2 separate regions of the Homo sapiens genome follow, and region 2 is linked to region 1. The links come from fine-mapping of genetic effects on gene expression. Tissue or cell type: testis. Region 1 holds a variant in brackets; the other region holds the start of a gene. All regions are shown on one strand. Distances are from middle to middle.

The links. PIP is the estimated chance that this variant, and not a neighbour inherited with it, causes the effect.
Region 2: it holds the start of DCTN1, and the variant in region 1 is fine-mapped to the expression of DCTN1 in testis (GTEx, PIP 0.97).

Annotation. Positions count from the first base shown.
Region 1 is chr2:74,402,745-74,410,845 of GRCh38, reverse strand. No RefSeq gene overlaps it. Among named protein-coding and RNA genes, the nearest start is that of C2orf81, 15 kb to the left of the region's middle. The variant AC/C (reference allele first, on the strand shown) is at 3,823.
Region 2 is chr2:74,375,353-74,383,453 of GRCh38, reverse strand. DCTN1 (dynactin subunit 1) reads left to right here and starts at 3,143. Exons shown (of 32, transcript NM_004082.5): 1 at 3,143-3,449; 2 at 5,209-5,454; 3 at 5,728-5,806; 4 at 5,988-6,022; 5 at 6,692-6,712. The coding sequence starts at 3,417. RefSeq lists an enhancer at 2,831-3,342.

The DNA.
Region 1 (8,101 bases):
GCAAATTTTGGCTAAATACCACCTGCTCAGTTTCTCATTTGTAATTTGTAATTTTTAAATTTTATTTTGTATTAATTTTTTTTTCTGGGGAGAGAAGGAGCAGTGCTGGAAGCAGTCCATGCAGCAGGCTGGCCTCCCACTGAGTGAGTCTTAATTTCAAAATAGTTTTAGCATTTTAAAAACAATACTGTAAACTCATATGTGACAACAACTATTTTTTATACTTTACATAATCCAGACTTTTTTTTTTTTTTTTTTTTTTTTGGAGACGGAGTTTCGCTCTTGTTTACCAGGTTGGAGTACAGTGGCGCGATCTCGGCTCACTGCAACCTCCGCCTCTTGGGTTCAAGCGATTCTCCTGCTTCACCCTCCCGAGTAGCTGGGATTACAGGTGCCCAACACCATGCCTGGCTAATTTTTTGTATTTTTGCTAGATACGGGGTTTTGCCATGTTGGGCAGGCTGGTCTCAAACTCCTGACCTCAGGCCTCCCACCTTGGCCTCAAACTCTCGCCTTGGCCTCCCAAAGTGCTGGGATTACAGGCATCAGCCACCACACCCAGCCAATCCAGACTTTTTTGTATACTTATTGATATGGTTTGGCTCTGTGTCCCCACCCAAATCTCATCTCCAGCTGTAATCCCCATATGTAGAGGGAGGGACCTGGTGGGAAGTGATTGGGTCATGGGGGCAGTTCCCCCGTGCTGTTCTTGTGATATTGAGAGAGATCTCACAAGATTTGATGGTTTTAAAAGTGGCAGTTTTGACCTGGTGCGGTGGCTCACGCCTGTAATCCCAGCACTTTGGGAGGCCGAGGTGGGTGGATCACGAGGTCAGGAGATGGAGACCATCCTGGCTAACACGGTGAAACCCCGTTTCTACTAAAAATACAAAAAAAAAAATTAGCCAGGCGTGGTGGCGGGCGCTTGTAGTCCCAGCTACTCGGGAGGCTGAGGCAGGAGAATGGCGTGAACCCAGGAGGCGGAGCTTGCAGTGAGCCGAGATCGCGCCACTGCACTCCAGCCTGGGCGACAGAGCAAGACTCCGACTCAAAAAAAATAAAAAATAAAAAATAAATAAAAAGTGGCAGTTTTCCCCTGCCTGCTCTCTGTCTCTTCTGCCACCACGTAAGACATGCCTTGCTTCCCCTTTGTCTTCCACCATGATTATAAGTTTCCCGAGGTCTCCCCAGCCATGCAGAGTTGTGAGTCAATTAAACCACTTTTGTTTATAAATTACCCAGTCTCAGGTAGCATCTTAATAGTGGTGTGAGAACAGACTAAAACACTTATGTACTATTTTAAACATTTTTTTTAAGATTTAACTTTAGGATTTTAATTTTGTTTTTGTTTGAAACATAGTTGGTTTTTTTTTTTTTAAATATTAAGCTTGTTAATAGTTTTCCAGTGATGACCTTCCCTAGCTTTGTTTCTTTAAAAACATTTTCTCAAGTATCTCTGCACACATATTTCTTTTCCCCCAAACCTAGCACCGTTATGTCCTTAGCACCTAGCTTAGTGTCTGCCATATTCCAGGTGCCTAATGAACATTTGTGGGATGGATAAATGAAGGAATGAATGTATGAATACATGAAAGCAACTTTCACAGTGTTTCCAGCTTCTCCTTCCCCTTCTTAGCCATCAGTGAAATAAAACATATAAATGAGGATCAATTAAGGTAGCTCCAACTAGCAAGTAGAAGAAAAGAAAGGCAAAACTCCAAACACTAATATGAAAGAAGAAGAAGATCATTAGGAAGGCAGCTAATAATGAAAATGAGGTCCCAGCTAACATTAAGCTCTCCTATGCCTAGCCCAGGTTTCTGGATAGGGACCCCACTGCCCCTTCTTAGAGAGCCCTGCTCTCCTATCTTCTGGAGAAGCAGGTTGGGGAGTGAGCATGGGAGTTTACTCTAGAACTTGGATTGAAGCAGTGTGGTCCCTCCCATCTCTACCCAGGGGCCCTACGACAGGCAGGGTCAGCCCCAGTGGTGAATGTGTCTTCCGTTCGGCATGCACATGGGTACATTGATGAGGGGCACCTGACAGGCTGGAGGCCCTTTGACCTTTAACCAAAACTATGACTGCAGCAAACTGCTATTGACTTCATTCACTGGAGAGCTTGCCCAGAGACTTCAAGGAAGAGGTAACTGCCTCTGACACCCCTTACTCCACTCCCAGCACCACCTCCCAACCTTTCGCATCTCCTGCCAACATGTCCTGGCCATAAAGTACTCCCAATGTGCCCCAAACCAGCATTTTATTCCACTCCAACTATCATCTTTGTACCCTCTATTTCTCTCAACCCTGTATTCACATCATTTCAACCTTTTCCCACTCTTTTCATCTCCCACAATATTTCTTTCCTGCTGGTGTTTTCCAATACCAGCATCGTCCACCATGTTCCTCCTACAGTTCACCCAACACTTCCAATACCCATCCTTCCTTACTGGCTTGGGTACCATTAAGGTAAGCTACAGAGCACCAGTGTCCCCTGCACCACCCTCAAGTCACTGGTCAACACTACCCAACAGACTTGGTAGGATTTGCACGCTGCTGAACTACACTTAACCCCTTTTATCGGTCATCCTCCTCTCTCTTCACTTTGCACTCTCCTTGTGTCTCACCTTCTTAGGAATGACTGTGAATGCTGTGGAGCCCGGTGTTGTATACATGGGGATTATGAGGCATTTCTCTTAGCCATAATGCTTCCTCTTCTAGCTTGTCAGCTTCTTCATGAAGGTAGGTGGGGGAAAGAACTGGTTTGGCCTAGAGGAATGGGGCAGGGCTCAACTTCTCAGTGTGTCCCAGCAGGCCAAAGTTTGCCTGGCATGACTTCTTTTTCGCTTGTCCCTCCCAACAGGATCTCAAACAAGGTGTACTCCCAGTCCTCTACTTGAGCTTGGCAGAGGAGCCGGGTGGTATTTCTGGAAAATATTTCAGCAGTTCCTGTGTGATAACTCTTCCCGTTAAAGCCTCTCGGGATCCTCATGTTGCCCAGAGCCTCTGGAATGCCTCAGTCCGACTGACAAGCCTAGTCAAGATGGACTGACCCTCTGTGACCTCTGCCCTAACTTGCCACCCTGCCTCTAACTTCCAGCACTTACTCTGATTATGCCCTTTGTTTGCTGGCTTCTAGGACCAATTACTGTCCAGTATAATGACCACTTCCTATGCCTGTTGGCTTAGTGATGACTTGAGAGTCAAGAATAGTCGGGGCCAGCTGCGATGGCTCACACCTGTAATCCCAATGCTTTGGGAGGCTGAGGTAGGCAGATTGCTTGAGCTCAGGAGTTCATGACCAGCCTAGAGCAACATGGAAAAACCCCATCTCTACAAAAAAATACAAAAATTAGCTGAGCAGGGTGGTGTGTTCCTGTGGTCCCAGTTATTTGGGAGTGGAAGGTGGGAGGACTGCATTGAGACCGGGAGGTCGAGGCTGCAGTGAGCCAAGATGGCACCACTGCACTCCAGCCTGGGTGACAGAGCAAGACCCTGTCTCAAAAAGAAAAAAAAAAAAGAATAATTCACACAGTTTAATCTTCCACTTTATTGCCAGTTAGCCGGTGGAAGTATTCATCTTTTGGGAACTAGGATCTCCCAACCTACCGGGTGCTGTGGTGGGTTGTGGTAACTTGAAGTAAGACTCCTTCCGGGGAGCGCTGGGGATACCAGTAAGAAGGGAAACTTTCATTTGTACCTCTTGATTCCCAGACCTGTGCTTCTTGCCTATGGGGAAGATAGCCCCACACAGTGACCTCTGGATTAAGGCATTTACCACATCCTGTAGCACAGCACCCCAACCTCACAGGGAGTTGTCTCCCA[AC/C]TAGTATTGTACTGAGCCTGCTCTGGGTGATGAGTCATAAAATCCAGTTAATTTAGGGAGTATGAGTCCATTGCTCCTTTTCTGGGATCTTTGTTCATGTATATAAATTTTAGAATCAGCTCTTTGAATTTCACACACACACACACACACACACACACACACACACACACACACACACATCCTGTTGGGGATTGCATTGAATCTATAGATATACTTGGGAGGATTGACATTTTTATGAGATTGAGGCTTCCTAACCATGGACAAGGTTGACTCTTATATCTATTTAAATCTTCTAAATACCTGTACAAAATTTTAAATAATTTTATCCACAAAGATCTTGTACAGAAGTTTTACTGCATTTATATTCAGGCACTTTCATTTTTATGCTATTATAAATGATATTTTAAAATGTGTATATCTGTTGACGGCTGTGTGAAACCTCAGTTCTTAGTTTGAAAGAATTTAAACAAGGGACACAGCAAAAGAAGTGCAGCATAGAGTAATTTATTGCACAAGAAAAAGAATATTTTGAAAGGTAGGTGCAGAACAGACAGTACACCGAAAGTGAGAGAATTCAGGGCAGGCTGCTCATAAGGATGAGACAGCAAAGACTGGCACTAGGGAGACTCTTATGGAAGTCTGACATGATTATTCATGAGGTGGGAAGAGGTGTTACTAGTAAGCATGTTCTGGGTGGTCCTCTGGGTGTGGATGTGCAGTAGCTGTATATGCTTGTTCATATGTCACATGTCTCATTAGCATCTTCAATATCCAGGGGTGTACTTTTTACTAATAAAATGAGCAAAGGGTCAGTTTGAGGACAGGTAAATCAAACTGCACATGCTGTCTGCAGGGGAAATTCCCTACTGAAGATAGCTTTGCTTGAATGAGCTCAGTTACAATGCATATGCTGAGGTTTATTGTGTTGATTGTACAGTCACCACTGTTGCTGCCTTGACTACTTGGTCACTTCCTTGACTACCTCTCCTGCCTCATATTGATCTTATATCAAACAACTTTATTAAGTTATCTAGTTCTAATAAGTCGTCCATAGATTCTCTTGGTTTTTCTACATGGAAAATCACATCATCCAGGAATAATCACAGTTTTATTTCTTCCTTTGTAACTATTCCAACTTATATTTCTTTTTCTAGAAAACTTTAATAGATTTTCTAGTATTGAAACAACCTTACATTTCTGGAATAAACCCAACTTTGTAATAGTGTTACCTTTTTTATGCATTGCTAAACAGCCTGCTCATTTTTTTTAAAACTTTTTACTATGTTCATAAAGGAGATTGGCCCAAATAAATAAATAGAAAAAAGAAAAAATAGTAAAGGAGATTGGCCTGTATTTTTCCTTATTTATGTGGAAACTGCCTAGTTTTGTTGTTATGAGTACTTTTTTTTTTTTTTTTGAGACAGAGTCTCTCTCTGTCGCCCAGGGTGGAGTGCAGTGGTGCGATCTAGGCTCACTGCAACCTCCGCCTCCCGGGCTCAAGCAATTCTCCTGCCTCAGCCTCCCGAGTAGCTGGGATTACAGGCATGAGCCACCACGCCCGGCCTAGAATTTTTAATCTACATATTTAACTTAATGTCTTTAATCAATATCTTCATTCTTCTTTAAAACAATTCATAGATTTTAGAGTTCTTTAACATTAATAATTCTCTTTGAATTTATACATTTTTGTAACCCTATATTTTAATTCTACTATTTTATTAATCTCACAAATCAGATATTATTATTATTATTATTATTTTTTTTTTTTGAGACTGAGTTTCGCTCTTGTTGCCCAGGCTGGAGTGCAATGGCGCAATCTCAGCTCACTGCAACCTCCGCCTCCCAGGTTCACGCAATTCTCCTGCCTCAGTAATCCCGAGTAGCTGGGATTACAGGCATGCACCACCAGGCCTGGCTAATTTTTTTTTTTTTTTTGTATTTTTAGTAGAGACAGGGTATCTCCATGCTGAGGCTGGTCTCGAACTCCTGACCTCAGGTGATCCGCCCACCTTGGCCTCCCAAAGTGCTGGGATTACAGGTGTGAGCCACCATGCCTGGCCACAAATCAGATATTATTTTAAATAGGTGATACTTGTATAGGTTTGCTCATATGTTTAATGTTAATACTTAATATTGCTTGCTCTTCTTTCTTGTATCTCAGATCTTCCATCTTGTGTTATTTTCCTTCTACCTGAAGTACATCTTTAGAAGTTACTTTAGGCCAGGCTTAGTGGCTCATGCCTGTAATCCCACCACTTTGGGAGACTGAAGCGGGTGGATTGCTTGAGGACAGGAGTTTGAGACCAGCCTGGGCAACATGGTGAAACCCCGTCTCTCAAAAATGCAAAAATTAGCCGAGTGTGGTGGCACGTTCCTGTAGTCCCAGCTATTCAGGAGGCTGAGGTGGGAGAATCACCTGAGCCCAGGAGGTCAAGTCTGCAGTGAGCTGTGATCACGTCATTGCACTCCAGCTTAGGTGACAGAGTGAGACCCTCTCTTTCTCTCTCAAAAGAAAGTTACTTTAGTGAGGATTTGTGGTAGACAGAATTCTAAGATGGCCTCCAAAGTTCTCATCTTTTGTTTATGTACCCTATAAAATCCCCCTTCCCCTTAAGTCTGAGCAGAACTCGTGAATATGATGGGATTTCTCTCCTGTGATTACGTTATTTACCTGACATAAGGGATTTTTCTGATGTAGTTAAAGTCTCTAATCAGTTAATCAAATTGGTGATTATTTTGGGTGGACCTGACTTAATGAAGTGAGCCCTTTAAAAGGCTTCAAGCCTTTACAGAAGTTAGAAAGATTCTCTCCTTTACCTTAAAGAAGCAAATTGCTACACTGTGGAGAGGGCCACATGGCAGGGATGGCAGATGGCCTCTGGGAGCCAGGCCTCAGTTCTATAGTCACAACAAATTGAATTCTGCCAATAACCAGTGAGCTTGAAAGAGGACCCTGAACTTCAATGAGCTTTCAACCCTGGATGACTTCTTGATTTCAGCCTGGTGACCTCCTGAGTGGAGGACCCAGCAAACATGTACCCAGACTCCCGACCCACAGAAACTGTGAGATAATAAATGTGTTTTTTTAAAAAATAAACATATTTATTATATTTTTTAGAGACAGGCTCTCTCTCTGTCACCCAAGCTGGAATGCAGTGGCACTATCACAGCTCACAGCAACCTCACACTCCTGGCTCAAGCAATCCTTCTGCCTCTCTGCCTCCCAAGTAACTGGGACTACAGGAGCATGCCACCACTCTGGCTAATTATTATTTTTTATTTTTTATTTTTTCAGAGGTAATCGAGTTAGAATTAAATTTTTTTTTCTTTTATAGAGATGGGGATTCTTGTTATGTTGCCCAGGCTGGTCTCAAATTGCTGGCCTCACAGGATCCTCTTGCCTTGGCCTCCAAAGTGGTGGGATCACAGGCATGAGCCATCATGCCTGACCTATGTTGCTTCACCCACTGAATTTATAGTAATTTGTTATGTAGCAATAGAAAACTAATATAAGATCTAATATAATAAACTTCCTCAGTTTTATTTGTTGGAGGATGTATTTATTTCACCTTAATGTTGGGGTATCAGTTTGCTACTGGCTAAGGAATTATAGGTTGACAGTTTTTTTGTTTTGTTTTGTTTTTTTGTTTGTTTGTTTTGAGACGGAGTCTCGCTCTGTCGCCCAGGCTGAAGGGCAGTGGCGCGATCTCGGCTCACTGCAAGCTCCGCCTCCCGGGTTCACGCCATTCTCCTGCCTCAGCCTCCCGAGTAGCTGGGATTATAGGCGCCCGCCATCACACCTGGCTAATTTTTTGTATTTTTTTTTGTTTTGTTTTGTTTTTAGTAGACACGGGGTTTCACCCTGTTAGCCAGGATGGTCTCCATCTCCTGACCTCGTGATCCGCCTACCTCGGCCTCCCAAAGTGCTAGGATTACAGGCGTGAGCCACTGCGCCCGGCCGACAGTTTTTGTGTGTTTTTTTTAATCCTGTTAAATATAGTATTGCTTTTTTTTTCTTTTCTTTTTTTTTTTTTTTTCGAGATGGGAGTTTCGCTCTTGTTGCCCAGGCTGGAGTGCAATGGCGCGATCTCGGCTCACCGAAACCTCCGCCTCCCGGGTTCAAGTGATTCTTCTGCCTCCCGAGTAGCTGGGATTACAGGCACGCGCCGCCACGCCTGGCTAATTTTGTATTTTTAGTAGAGATGGGGTTTCTCCATGTTGGTCAGTCTGGTCTCGAACTCAGGTGATCCACCCGCCTCGGCCTCCCAAAGTCCTGGG
Region 2 (8,101 bases), 27 kb after region 1:
CTTCCTGTTATTATTGGATCAAGTCCTTCTCTGTCTGCCTGATGTTAAACTCCGTGCCTACCCACAGTTACCTCCCAGTATGTTGCAATGTTATTCAATAAATGTTTATTCAATAAATATTTGACCATGAGCTACTTACTGGCTATTGGATCATAAAGAGGAAAAGGTGTGGGCTATGCTTCAAAAGGCTTATAGTTTGATAGAATAACCATCTACAATTCGTTACTTCAGCTAAGCTAGGGTTCTTTACTATTCGCTAGTCAAGCAAAGTTATTTCTGCCTCTGTTCATACTGTGTTCACAAGTTACAGGGCTTTGTAGGCCTTTCCACATATTTTTTATTTTTATTTTATTTATTTATTTTTTTTTTTTTGAGACGGAGTCTCGCTCTGTCGCCCAGGCGGGACTGCGGACTGCAGTGGCGCAATCTCGGCTCACTGCAAGCTCCGCTTCCCGGGTTCACGCCATTCTCCTGCCTCAGCCTCCCGAGTAGCTGGGACTACAGGCGCCCGCCACCGCGCCCGGCTAATTTTTTTTTGTATTTTTAGTAGAGACAGGGTTTCACCTTGTTAGCCAGGATGGTCTCGATCTCCTGACCTCATGATCCACCCGCCTCGGCCTCCCAAAGTGCTGGGATTACAGGCGTGAGCCACCGCGCCCGGCCTCCACATATTTTTTAAAATTCCCATAATTCAAGGCATGCTTAGGTACTCCCTTTCTTTCTAGCTCACCTCTCTCCTGTCTATAATTTCTTATATTTATTGTGTAGATGTATATACCATTTAGTATCATGTCAGGTAATTCTTTGCAGTTCTATAATTTCTGTACTTTTTACAAGGTGCTTTTTTTTTTTTTTTTTTGAGTCTCAGTCTGTCGCCCTGGCTGGAGTGCAGTGGTGCGACCTTGGCTCACTGCAACCTTCACCTCCCGGCTTCAAGCGATTCTCATGCCTATAGTCTCTCAAGTAGCTAGGATTATAGGTATGCGCCACCACACCCAGCTCATTTTTGTATTTTTAGTAGAGATAGGGTTTCACCATGTCAGCCAGGCTGGTCTTGAACTCCTGGTCTCAAGTGAGCCACCGGCCTCAGCCTCTCAAAGTGTTGGGATTACAGGCATGAGCCACCACACCTGGCCTACAAGGTACCTGTATATGCTTTAGCTTTTTTGAACCTCATGATACTGACGTAGATATGGCAGATATTATTTTCATTTCATAGGAAAATAAACAGATTCCAAGAAATTAGGGGACTATTGATACCTATGTGGTTAGTGAGTTGTGAGGCTATTTTTAGATCTGAGCTCTTTTGAATTTTTTAAGGCAGTGTGGCCTACAGGAAGAGCAGGGCCTTGGAAGCCTAGATATGTCTGTGGTAATGGTGAGGGGTAGTAGAAAGCACAGAGGGCTCTGGGTCAGGTTGTTTCCAGTTTTGGCTCTACTCCTCACAGTCTGTGTGTCTTCAGGGAAGTTGCTCAGTTCTCAAAGACTCAGTTGCCTTGTCAGCATCATCCCTGGCCAACCTCTCAATGGGGTTATTGTAATGTCTATATATGATGACATTGTTCTTAGCTAACTTTTATTTAGCACTTATTAAATACCAGGCGGTGTCCTGGATGCTTTGTTTGGATTATCTCAGCTAATCCTCACGATACCTCTCTGAGATATGTTCTTTGTTACTTCCCTATGACGGATGAGGAAATTGAGGCATAGAGATGTTAAGTAACTAGACCAAGTTTATGTAGCTACCAAGTGATAAAGCCAGGAAAGTAGCCTGAGTCTAGAACCAGTACTCAACCATGGTTCTATAAAATGTCTTTTTTTAAGGTGTCCTATAGACTGTAAAGTGCTCCGAACATGTGAGGTCCAGGCTGCAAGGATGTGCCTGGCCCTGCCCACCTGTGTAATGGCGAATAGGGAAAGGAGGGGGCGACATGGAGATTTTGCAGGGAGGAGAGAGATTATTTCCTAGGGGGTCTGGCCAGGACTGAAGATTTGGAATTGTGTTTTGGGGCCATATTTCTGAATGTTGGCTGTCATTCTCCTGTTGGGCTACCTGGCCTATCTTAAGAGGGTAGAGCGGGGTAAAGTCACTGTTCTGCCAGTGAAGTAAGCCCAGTGCAGAAAAGACAGGCGTCCCTAGGCCCAAGGGAACTAGATCCATACCATACTCAGTGGAGCCATAGGTCAGACCCCAGGCCAACCTTGTTGGCTGTGTAGGGGCAGGGACCCTGGTCTTTTGGTTTCTAGCCCATGATAGATGGGCCAGTGAATGAAAGCAGTGTGGTAACATAGTCCCTTGGAGACCTCTCATTAGAATGCATAATCTCATTAAATTAAACAATTCTAATTATAAAAGTAATACATGGTTACTGAAGAATTTTTGTGAAATACAAAAGCGTAGAAAATAAACCATTTCATTGGGTCTGAGATGCTAGGAGGCAAGGCCAAGAGTACAAGGGGCAGATGACTGAGGTGGACTGGGCCTTGTGCTACAAGAAGAAAGAAGGGCTCTCTGCTTTTGACTACTGCCTTTAGTAATCCAGTTGAGTCTGATACTCTTGTGTTTTACAACCTGGCCCCTTATAACAACCATAAAGGGTGAAGGGTGACTATGGCAACCTTTGCCAGCCTTGTGGGAGGGGGCTAGGGTACTTGGCTTGCTTTGCTATGTGTGTGAAGTTGCCTTCATTACTGCCCTTCTCTTGCTGCCTCCTGGGCAGGGCCTGCCTCCTCTGGCTCAGTGTGAGATTGAAATCCAGGCCCTACTCACATGAATTTGGACCCTGAGTCCAGAGTTTAGAGAGGGGAGGGAGAGAGAAGAGCACCAGAAAGGTAGATGAGAGACCCTTATTTTGGCTGTGTGGAGGCTCTAGGCAGCTGATCGCTTTGAAGTGTCACTTGATGCTTATGGGCCTGCTGAGGCCTTACATCCTGGGGGAGAGGGGAACAGTGATGGTGAGTGGGTACAGACTAGGAGGACGTGTCAAGACTGCTTCCAGCCCTAGGACAGTGTATTCAAGAGTTGAGTGCTGAGGGTCTGTGGCGTATGCCCAGCCCTTAGTTTCTGGCCCACGTGAAGCAGGGGGGCACTAGGACCCAGAGGCTAGCACGGTTCCTGACAAGTCTAGAGCAGCACTAGCGCAGAGTGAGACTCATCAGCTGGCAAGCAGGATTCTGTGTCTCTGGGTTCAGGAATCCTCAGGCAGCAGAGGGGACTTGCTCCTCAGCCCCCATCACTGCCCCCACCCCTACCCGTGTAGGCCACCGAGTGAGGCCCATGGACTGGGGAGGGCTGTGCCTGACGACTCCTGTGTCCCTCTATGAGGGCCCAGCGCCCTGACCCTCCTGCCTAGGTTTCTACCTTTTCTCTCTGTCTTTGGCCAGCTGGGGGAGGGGGTAGAGGCCGGGTGAGCAACATGGCACAGAGCAAGAGGCACGTGTACAGCCGGGTAAGTGGCCCTAATCTGGGATGGCCCTGGAGGGCTGCTGGGGAAGGCCTGGCTGCCTGTGGACATCATTGCTGTGGGGGCTGGGGAGATAGGCTGGAGCTCAGCTGAGGGCACTCAGACTGTGTTTTCTAAGGAGCCCTCGAAGCCCTGGTGGTGTAAGGCTGGACAGGCTTCCCTTTACAGAGTTGATCCCTAAATGGGGACTAGCAAGGCCTGACCTCTGACTCTAATTGGCCCTCATACCAGGGGCTCCTGAGGGGGTCCAGACTATCCTGGGGACTCAGAATGGGGATGATGGCTCAGAGAGGTCTTACAGTGAAGCCTTTCTTAAGAGCTGCTTTGTTATTTGTTACTTGCTTTCTTTCTCTTCTGAGATAGAATCTGTAGCTACTGTTGTGGCCCCCTGGTTCTGAGAGGCTTATTGGGGTTGGAAAGTGGGGGAGTCTCTGACTTTGGGTTCAGCCTTTTATATCACTGGCAATTCCTTTTATTGTCAGGTCCATGAGAGCCATCCTGCTGTTCCAGGTGTGATTTGGGGTCCTGGAGCCTCTGGGAACTACATCCTCACCTTCCTGGATGAGCTGTTTGGGGAAGGGAATTAGGCAGTGATAGGCTGGGAGGTGTCCTGGCTCTTCCCTGGCTCTGCCAGGGCTCCCTTCTGAAGCTATTATAAATGAGAGTATCAGAAGGGTCTCCCATAGAGTCTTTAGGATGATGGTATCACTTCATCATGCCTCATTCATCTGTTTGCTGCAAGGCCCCTGGTTCATGGAGTTGCTGTTGCTAAAAATGACCTAAGTGTGATTTTCTTCTAAACCATGGGCCTATTTGGGACCTAATTTTCTATTGTGTTCAGTCATCATGGGTGTGCCGAAGCTAAGAGCTGCCCAAGGACAGTGTCTTAGTCTGTTGTTTTGCCTTGCCCATCTGTGGAGTGATAAACCATTCATTTGGACCACTGAGCAGAGTCTTGGGGACAGAGCGAGGGGTAGATCCACCCAATTTACTTGGCCTGTGTTTTCCTTTTTATAGCAACATAGCATGGAGAAGAATCTCCAGAGCTTGGGGATAGAGAGTTGACCAAACAAGACTCAGGCCAGGTAGAAGGGGAGTTGAATGGTTGAATGGGCTGTGGTGAAGCATCTGGGGTTTCATGGTGGGTTTGTGGATGGGGGTGGGAGGAGTCAGATCAGGAAGGAGAGGTGGTGACTTAAGGGTCTGGAAGGAGGCACAATTGTGTGCCTCTGAAAGGGTGAGGCCTAAGAAAACCATTTGAAACACAGAGGAGACAAGTGACAGTGGAAGGGGAAACAGGATTCTGTAGGATCACCCACTGAATTGCCTGTCTTCCCAGCTCAGACTCCTGAGTCAGGGCATTGGGTTGTGGGGAGCCTGGTCTAAACTGAGTTATTTGCTTGATCTTATTTCCCCTCCTGAGAAGAGAATTAAGGAGACAGTGCTCCTGAGAAAGCAGCCATGTGGTGACATTCACAGACTGGTCAATGAATTCTGATTTGTTATAAAAAATATAAACTTAAAAATTCTAGCAGATTCCAGAGGAATTTGGAGAAATCTTAGAATATCATTGGCATTTTTTCAAAGGGGAATTTGGGGGTCCACCCAATTCTGTAAATGGGGTTTAAGAAAATGACTCTGGTTGTTTTTCAGTCCAGCATCTTGGCTGAGGCATTTCTTATACATAAGAATGCCACCTTTGATCTGAGGCCTCTAACTGTCTGTGTTTACCTGTGTCTTTCAGACGCCCAGCGGCAGCAGGATGAGTGCGGAGGCAAGCGCCCGGCCTCTGCGGGTGGGCTCCCGTGTAGAGGTGATTGGAAAAGGCCACCGAGGCACTGTGGCCTATGTTGGAGCCACACTGTTTGCCACTGGCAAATGGGTAGGCGTGATTCTGGATGAAGCAAAGGGCAAAAATGATGGAACTGTTCAAGGCAGGAAGTACTTCACTTGTGATGAAGGGCATGGCATCTTTGTGCGCCAGTCCCAGGTATTCACGCCCTTCTTTTGTGTCTGTGCATGTGTGCACATGTCTGTCGCATGTGCAGCTGATGTGTTGGTACTTCGTTTTCCTGAGCATGGGCATAAGCCTCTGGTTGGGAGAGTGGAAGGTAGTGGGGGAGGGAAGATTGAAGATGCATCCTTAGGGAAGCTGCCCTGTACTCTTGGTTTGCTTGGAGCCTGGGGAGGGGCCCATATTACAGCCGTCCTTGATCTGGCTATATTGAAACTATTGATCTGGCTATATTGAATCTGGCCTCAGATCCAGGTATTTGAAGATGGAGCAGATACTACTTCCCCAGAGACACCTGATTCTTCTGCTTCAAAAGTCCTCAAAAGAGGTAACAACCACCCACTTAAAGTTGCCTCCCCATAGCCAGGAGGAGTCCCCAGGACTTCTCCTCATAACATGGGGCCACAGTAGATCCTAAGATTTTTTTCCGTCACTACCATATTCCCTTATTATATCTCCCCCTACCTCTCTATACAAGTACACACTTTGTTTCTGTTTGCTTTCTACAGAGGGAACTGATACAACTGCAAAGACTAGCAAACTGGTGAGTGATTTGGGGGTGGGAATGGGGAATAATAAAGGGAGGGGAAGGAGAAAGAGGAGGGATACCCAGTGCTAGGCAGGTAGAAGTAGTAGGTGAGTCTGATTTGCCTTCTAGTCTCTCCAACTTCCCTAAGAAGGAGGCTTTCTGGGGATTAATTGCTGTGTTAGAGTTACAGTAAAGATGGTAGAAGGGAAAAACTCATAGGCTCCAGAAGTTCAGGGTCAAATGAGATTGAGCTGAGGGTGATAGGAAGGACAGGTCTGGCCCTAGTAGTGTAGCCAACTTCCTACCTTTTGGTACCCAAAGATGCCAACATCTAAAGGGTCTGAGGGTAAGGTTAAGGTAGAAGATAGAGGAAGAAGCAATCTCCTATTCACAAGTGAATGGCAAGGAGCCGGGCCCTCTGCCTCCTGTTTTAAGCTGGATGCAGAGAGTGCTTCCTAGTTCTTCTCTGCTACTCTGTGCAGGATGTGTGTGAGGTGGGGCTGCAGACTCTGCAGCTTCTCTGGGCCAAGGTGTGAACATCCTGGAAGCTGATCTTTGAGGGGCTACTCATCTCACCCTGACTCCCCCCTACCCGCGTCTAACCTGTGTAAGCCCGAGTTGGTCTTAACACCTATGCCCAGGACATCTGTTCTCTAACTCTGCCCTTTCCTACTCCTCATGCAGCGGGGACTGAAGCCTAAGAAGGTGGTGTGTTTACTATTTGTGCCTGGGTGGATGGGGGCCATGAGCCCCTTCCCCAGCTGTCCTGCATGTCCCTGGGCTGCTGCATGCATGTGTGTGTGACCTTGGGCTGGGATGGCCAGAGGAAATGGTGGCCTTGGCTTTCAGAGTTCCTTTGAAGGGTGCAAGAACATCAGGCTCAGTGTCCATACCCAGGTAGCACTCATTAGGGATGATTCTCTCTGCCCCAGGACTCCAAGTCAAAGATTCCCCAATCAAAAACTATAAGCATTTGACTGTAAATAGCAGCAGTGTGAAATAGATCATTTACTGGGTTACAGTGTGTTCTCACTTAGCCCGAGCTTGGACGACTGTGGAAGGATAGACTGGGGGAATGGGGCTGAGGAAGGTACCAAGTGAGGGGGTTTTGCAGGAAGATGGGAGGTCAGGGAACAGAGCCTAGGAAGAACAGTCCCAAGTTGGAAAACCTAAGAGCCTTCATGTGCCTGCCTGTGGATGGGCACAGCCATAAATATCCCCACACCCCACAACTCTGCCCCATCAGTCTGTCCCTGTCTCCTTCCTCTGGTGGTGTGCCTGAGGCCTACCTCCTACCCCTTGCAGCCTTTCATCAACCATCATTGGAGTGGGGCTCAATCATGTCACGTCCCCTCCCCTTCCCACCATAGACTCTTTAAACTCTTAGATCACTGCCATGACCACTTCCTCAAACCAGCCCCTGCCTTGGGCCTCTGCCCAAGCTGTTTTTGACCTGCATGTGCCTGTCTGGCCTGTATGTACTGTGCTGTATGTACAATTCTGTGATTTCCTTGTCGTCAGCCTATCTCAGGCCATTCTGACATTGCATGGAGAGCTGCTGGATTGGGGCTGTGGGAGGGAAGAGGAAAACATCTCCTTTTCCAGGGGGAAACCAGCTCCTGGTTGGTGATGGGTCCTTTGGAGTCTTGCCATGGTAGAGACCACATGCTGGTACTTGCTTTGGTAGGGAATGGGGATATAAGGAAAATAATGCTGTGAAGGATCCTGGGCCCATTTCAGAGTCATAGAAACTTGGCTTTGTCCTTTGATTATTGTCTCCTGGTTGGGGCTTCCATTTCACCTCAGGCCTTGAATAGAGAAGAGCATGAAACTATGGTCTGATATTTATGGAGTTCTGGCCCCAGCCTGGTCTGACCCTGGGCTGGGGCCTGAGCAATGCCCAAATCCAGGGGCTTTGGCAGCTGCCTGGGGAAATGTGAAAAAGCCCAGCCTAGGCCACCCATGCTGCCCTTCTGCACTCACGTTGGAAAGTGTCAATCAGACAGTTGAGTGCCCCCACCCCGGAGCACCCCAGTCTTCCTCTCCAGTAGTTATTTTTCAAAGCAGAGGGCCCCTGCTCTCACCCATGTGGAT